Homo sapiens: one gene and its partner. The protein of the gene in region 2 interacts with the protein of the main gene of each other region in a biochemical or structural test. Each region holds a gene or a part of one and is shown on either strand. Other genes may lie near its edges.

Region 1 (3,500 bases), on a different chromosome or scaffold from region 2:
AGGCTGAGGCGGGAAGATCACGAGGTCAGGAGATCGAGGCCATCCTGGCTAACACAGTGAAACCACCGTCTGTACTAAAAATACAAAAAAAAAAAAAAAAAAAAAAAAAAAAAAAATTGCCGGGCGAGGTGGTGGGTGCCTGTAGTCCTAGCTACTCAGGAGGCTGAGGCAGGAGAATGGCGTGAACTCTGGAAGCAGAGCTTGCAGTGAGCCGAGATCGCGCCACTGCACTCTAGCCTGGGCAACAGCAAGACTCCGTCTCAAAAAAAAAGAAAAAAAGAAATACTGCTCTAAATTTCAAGATGCGATTTTTGAAATGGGAAATGAACAGCGAGGTCTTTGTGAGGAGCGCGGCTGGGTACATACCTAAGGTTTCCCGTTTTAGAAAATGGGTCAATACATTCATCCCTTGATAATATTCGGTGAGAAAAAAGCTTCTTCTCGGGGTCTAAAAAGCCTTGGAAAAGAAAACAGGACAAAGATTACATACCTGAGACACGTTTCGGTCACACGGCACATGGTGAAGCCTTGAATGTTTTTTTTAAAGTGGCAGACACACAACATGATGAACTGGCACCAAACACTTCATCCCTTTTGAGGTAAGACGTGGCTCGTGTGGGGCTTCTTTTCTCTTATGGTGAACTTATTTCTCAAACACAAACCATGTTGATAAGTGTTTATAATTCTACTAACATGAAAAATTTGTAATATCTTACTGAAGTGCCTATCTAAACCAGATGGATATGAAAATTATGGAAGGCACTTGCATAAGTAAAACAGGTAAGTCATCATTTGATCTCAAAACACTCTGCATGTGGTTCTTCACGTGATGGAGTCTGGACACTAAGCTGAAATTACTCTGCGTCACCTCGGATATGATCTTTCCTAACCCCAGGCGGGTGGCCCACTGCTCTCATCTGTAATGGTTAGTGGAGGAAAGGTTATCAAGGAAGTTTGCTTCTCCCAAGTTACTTTAGTAGAATTATACAAACTCACACTCTGTGTTGTAGAAATACACAGAAAGGCCGGTTATTTCTAACTATTATACACGTTTTAATAATGGTAATTTAGGCAACATCGAGGAAGCCTGCCTGACAGAGGAGACTGGGAAGGAAGGACATCCGGGACACCACCTTGACCAGCTAGTGCAGAAGGTGCTTCCACAGCGAAGAATCCGCTTAGGCTACATTTGACACTTGCACTTCACATGACATCCGTTAATTACAAGTCTAGTTTAACTTTTTAACAGTAATTTTCTAAAGAGCTTCACATGCTTGATGCTCAGCTTCGACTCCTTAAAGATAGTAAAACCAAGCTATCTGCAAACATCCCTTCTACACTTCAGGAAGCACCACTGTGAAAATCAACAAATCAGGCAGAGGTTTCTTGGGATCACCTCTGCTCTGGGTTTCTTGATCTATAAATTTATCTTCTGAACTTTAAGCCTACTGTGTTATCTTCCTAAGTTTGCAAAGTCTTCAATTTACAGTAAAGTGCTCATATTTTTAAATAAAGATAATTTAAAAATAAGTTATCTCTTGTTAGTTTACAAGAACCACAGAGTATATAGGAAACATATTTCAGTTTGTAGAAGTAGGGGTACTAAACAAAAACAAAACAACCTTTCAGGTAATTTATTCCATTGGTAAAATATGTTGGAGGCATCAAGTTCAATGTCAATTTAATTTCACCAGCCATTTAAAACATTCTGGAGAGAAAAAGCTACGGTTAATTATGAAGCCTCAAAAAGAAATGTTTCAGCTACTCATCATACAAGTGGCTGAAGCCATAAATCTGCACATACCTCAAGAGATAGGTATTCCATGGCACCCACATAACGTGTTTAAGGGTATTCGATCATTTAACATTTACTGAGTTTAACATTACTTGGAATTTTGCTAGGAATATAAGGTGCGGGAATGAATACAACATAATTATTACTCTCCCAAGAGGCTGAAATTGTAAGAAAATTGAACACATTAACACACAACCTCTATCTGGCCTGACACGTGCAGGTGCCGTGGAACAAAACGGGGACTGGATTGCACAAGAGTGAGCCGGTCCAGAGTCGGGAGCTGGGACTGTGGTCTTGTCATGGCACGCAGGTCCCCTGCATAACCGTTAGTTATGCATGAAGCAAAGGAGGTAGATGAGACATCTCAAAAGCACTGTGAACCCAAAGTCCAACCACGCAGCCCACATTCTCTCAAGACTTAAGTCTCACTGGAACGCCTGGCTCCACGCCTCTGCATGGCACACGGGGTCCACTTCCGGATCCGAATGCACCCCGGAACGCCTGGCTCCACGTCCCCACGTGGCACACGGGGTCCACTTCCGGATCTGAACGTGCCCTGACTGCACTCCACATAATCACTATTGTTTTCACGCTGGCTTTTAATCAACTACTCCCTGCACCCATCCCTACTGGGCTCAACCTCTGCACCACCACCTCTGAGATCACAAATGCGAGAAACACATTTGCTGTTTTTGATACAGGTTAAAACATACACATTACAATTAAAACAGAAGAGCTGCTCTGTGCACCACCTCAGTTACCCTGCAGCCCCACGGCACTATGCACAATGCACTGTGGGATCCGTAAGATCTTCTGGGAAGATGAACCTGCTTCCTGGCTGAAGCATCACCACCTCCAGACGTTTCAAATGCAGTACTGCCAGGAGCTTTCCGTTCCCTGATACCACTGGTTTGTTAGTATTTCATTAACCAAAAGATACTTGGGCTTAAAGGAGAAATAAATGCGATTGTTTCTCACTATGCGTAAATTCCAGATGATCACTGAGGCCATGAAGTCGCTAGATCTAAAGTCTGTTAATAGAATTATTAGCGTCTCTACTATCAGATAAAAGACACGCATCGCAAACTCTTAACATCTCTGTCCTAGTCATACTGAAAGCACGCATGCTATCAACACGGTCACTTTCAAAATGAAAAGCATCAAAAGCAGATGCTCGGCGACCACCTCAGGCTTCAGTCCGGACCTCACTTTCTCACTTGTAGAAAAGCTGACCCAGGTCATCTCTACAGATCCCGCCAGCCACAATGAAGCAAAGCTCGGCCTTCCTGAACCACAGCCTGGACACAGTCTTCCTCCTGCGTTGCTGGGCTCGAGGGCCCATGTTCTGTTGAGAATTTCTGCATCCATGTTCAAAGGGATACTGGTCTGCAGTTTTCTTGTGATGTCTTCGTCTGGTTTTGGCCGACATCCCTTGGACACGTTGGAATGCTGGAACTTTAGCATAGAAAGCAGAGCTTGAAACGGAGAAGGCACCAGACGGCCCGGTGACGCTCAACAAACCTAGCTGGTCTCACTGCAGGAGGACCCGCGCTCGAGGCTCTCCGCAGCCAAGCGCCCACCAGCAGGCTCCCTGCTCTGCTGTCTAAGCGGCTCAGAGGCCTGCGGATGTCTGCATGGATGCTCTGCTGAATCTGCGAGCAGCTCCCAGGCTCCCTCCAGCTTTCAGGCTGATAAAGAAACATGG
Region 2 (3,500 bases):
CATAAAGACAGGAAGCAGAATGGTGGCTGCCAGGGACTGGGGGAAGGCGGGAATGGGACATTACAGAATGTAAGCTTGGGAAGATGAGTGAAGTTTTACAGATGGACAGTGGTGATGATTATACAATAATATGAATGTACTTAACGCTACTGAACTATACACTTAGAAACAAAGAAAATGGTAAATTTTGTTACCTATATTTTACCACAATTAAAACAGAAAAAAAGGCCTCGTGCGGTGGCTGACGCCTGTAATCCTAACACTTTCGGAGACCGAGGCATGCGGATCACAAGGTCAGGGGTTCAAGACCAGCCTGACCAACGTGGTGAAACCCTGTCTCTAATAAAAATACAAAAATTAGCCAGGTGTGGTGGTGCGCGCCTATAATCCCACCCTCTCGGGAGGCTGAGGCAAGAGAATCTCTTGAACCCGGTGGGGGCGCAGTGGTTGCAGTGAGCAGAGATCGTGCCACTGCACTCCAGCCTGGGTGACACAGCGACACTCTGTCTCAAAGAAAAAGAAAACAAAAAAAGGTAAAGAAGATAATACTCAGCTGAGACTGGGCAAAGTGGCTCACGCCTGTAATCCCAACACTTTGGGAGGCCAAGGCAGGCAGATCACCTGAGGTCAGGAGTCCAAGACCACCCTGGCCAACATGGTGAAACCCCATCTCTACTAAAAATCCAAAAATTAGCTGAGCATGGTAATGGGCGCCTGTAATCCCAGTTACTCAGGAGGCTGAGGCAGAACAATCACTTGAATCCGGGAAACGGAGGTTGCAGTGAGCAGAGATCGTGCCACTGCACTCCAGCCTGGACGACAGAGTGAGACACTGTCTCCAGAAAAAAAAAAAAAAACCCTCAGCTGAATTAGGTTCATTTCTGGTGGATCACAGTAAAATCTGTTTTTACTTTCATTATTCCCCAAAAATAGAATTAGTCATTATAAGCATGAATAATCAAGCTCATGACTTATATTTTACATTTGCTTTCCTGGAAATTTGCTCCATAAACACCGTAAAAATCTTTTTAGAGTTAAAATGTCCATCTTCTGGACAGGCATGGTAGCTCACGCCTGTAATCCCAGCAATTTGGGAGGCCGAGGCGGGTGGATCACGAGGTCAGGAGATCTATACTATCCTGGCTAACACGGTGAAACCCCATCTCTACTAAAAATACAAAACATTAGCCAGGCGTGGTGGGACGCGCCTGTAGTCCCAGCTGCTTGGGAGGCTGAGCCAGGAGAATCGCTTGAACCCAGGAGGTGGAGGTTGCAGTGAGCCAAGATTGTGCCACTGCACTCCAGCCTGGGTGACAGAGTGAGACACCGTCTCGGAAAAAAAAAAAAAAAAAAAAAAACTTCGCGAGTTGCTGTGGCTCGCGCCTGTGATCCCAGAACTTTGGGAGGCCAAGGTGGGCAGATCACCTGAGGTCAAGAGATCGAGACCAGCCTGACCAACATGGAAAACCCTGTCTCTACTAAAAATATAAAATTACCCGGGCATGGTGGCACATGCCTGTAATCCCAGCTACTTGGGAGGCTGAGGCAGGAGAATCGCTTGAACCCAGGAGGCAGAGGTTGTGGTGAGCCGAGATTCCACCACTGCACTCCAGCCAGAGCAACAAGAGTGAAACTCCATCTCAAAAAAAAAAAAAAAAAAAAAAAAAGTCCATCTTCTTATCGAGATTAATCAGAAATAAATGTGAAGGGAAAAAAAACTTTTCCCAGGTATCTTTTTTTTTTTTTTTTTTTTTTTTGAGACAAGTCTTGCCCTGTTGCCCAGGCTGGAGTGTAATGGCGTGATTTTGGCTCACTGCAACCTCCGCCTCCCCAGGTCACACTGTTCTCCTGCCTCAGCCTCCCGAGAAGCTGGGATTATAGGTGCCCGCCACCACGTCCAGCTAATTTTTGTATTTTTAGTAGAGACAGGGTTTCACCATGTTGGCCAGGCTGGTCTCAAACTCCTGACCTTGTGATCCGCCCACCTCAGCCTCCCAAAGTGCTGGGATTACAGGAGCGAGCCACCGCACCCAGCCTCCCCAGGTATCTTATATTACCCTTCATCATTTATCTTTTAAATCTCTATCAGCCTCCAAAACAGGATCAAAAATAAATGTTTCAAACTTTAGCAAAAAGATCATTCCAACTCCATAAATGAATGCAAGAGCAATATCTAATACATAAAGTTGACCTACCTCAATTTTTTACTTCTAGTTTAAGTATAAAATGGTCCTTCTTGAACTGGGGGTTTTGTGAAATCAGCATATTTCAAAAGTGTTCACAAACCTTTGAGAGCCTTCTGCAATGTCTCCAAACAGCTGACCAAATGTTGATGCCCTCCAGAACTCATCACAACCCTCTTCTCCTGTGTCAAGTGGGAAAACATTTGAGGTGAAAATTAACCAGGCCAACAGTGTTTTAGGTAAACATACACATTATCCTAGTAGTAATATTGCAGGACAGTCTATAGACTCAATATAGTCTATAGATTTTGTAGACTATATAGAGTAACACTGGTCTACAAGTGTTACTCTGTCCATCCATGCAAAATCCATATATATGAGTGTAGAAAAAGGTATTCCTCAGCCAGGCACGTGGCTCATGCCTGTAATTCTAGCACACTGAGAGGCCAAAGCTGAATAATCACTTGAGTCCAGGAGTTCGAGACCAGCCAAGGCAAGATAGAGAGATCCTGTTTCTATTTAGTCAAAAACAAAAAAGAAAACGTTGTATTTCCACATCTAAAACAAAAAAACCTTTAGAGAAATATTAGGAAGAATCAAAATGTAATACATGAGATCTGCCGCCTGTGGAAGTGACCACATGCTAAGATATAAACAGTTAAATAAGATGGCTCAGGAGATTTGGTAGTGTACAAATTTAACAAGGTGATTTGCATGTAATCTGAGAAACACAACCAAATTTTAAGAAAATGAGATTGACTCTAAAAAACAGAACATATAGGCTGGGTGCGGTGGCTCACACCTGTAATCCCAGCACTTTGGGAGGTCAAGGCGGGTGGATCACGAGGTCAAGAGACTGAGACCATCCTGGCCAAAATGGTGAAACCCCGTCTCTACTAAAAATACAAAAATTATCTGGGCGTGGTGGTGCACGCCTATAGTCCCAGCTACTCAGCAGGCTGAGGCAGGAGAATCACTTGAACCCAGGAGGCGGAGGTTGCAGTGAGCCGAGATCACACCACTGCACTCCAGCCTGGCGACAGAGAGAGACTCTGTCTCAAAAAAAAAAAGAAAAAGAAAAGAAACAGAACATGTAGTCCAGAAAAGGGACTTCCAAAGAACAAAAACTTAGCCTAGTTTGAGGCCGGTTGCAGTGGCTCACGCCTGTAATCCCAGCACTTTGGGAGGCCAAGGCGAGCAGATCATGAGGTCAGGAGTTCGAGACCAGCCTGGCCAACATAGTGAAACCCCATCTCTACTAAAAATACAAAAATTAGCCAGGTGTGGTGGTACGCGCCTGTAGTCCCAGCTACTCAG

Evidence for each region. Proteins that work in one complex are often made in the same cells at the same time.
Region 1: the proteins of MED1 (region 2) and CTDP1 form a complex in vitro, tested with the Homo sapiens proteins (one study listed by BioGRID).

What each region holds. Positions count from the first base shown.
Region 1 is NC_000018.10:79,707,303-79,710,802, reverse strand, and holds part of CTDP1 (RNA polymerase II subunit A C-terminal domain phosphatase), read right to left. Parts: intron 458-3,500; coding exon 367-457; intron 1-366. UniProt on the Homo sapiens protein: Processively dephosphorylates 'Ser-2' and 'Ser-5' of the heptad repeats YSPTSPS in the C-terminal domain of the largest RNA polymerase II subunit. This promotes the activity of RNA polymerase II.
Region 2 is NC_000017.11:39,441,264-39,444,763, forward strand, and holds part of MED1 (mediator of RNA polymerase II transcription subunit 1), read right to left. Parts: intron 2,366-3,500; coding exon 2,287-2,365; intron 1-2,286. UniProt on the Homo sapiens protein: Component of the Mediator complex, a coactivator involved in the regulated transcription of nearly all RNA polymerase II-dependent genes.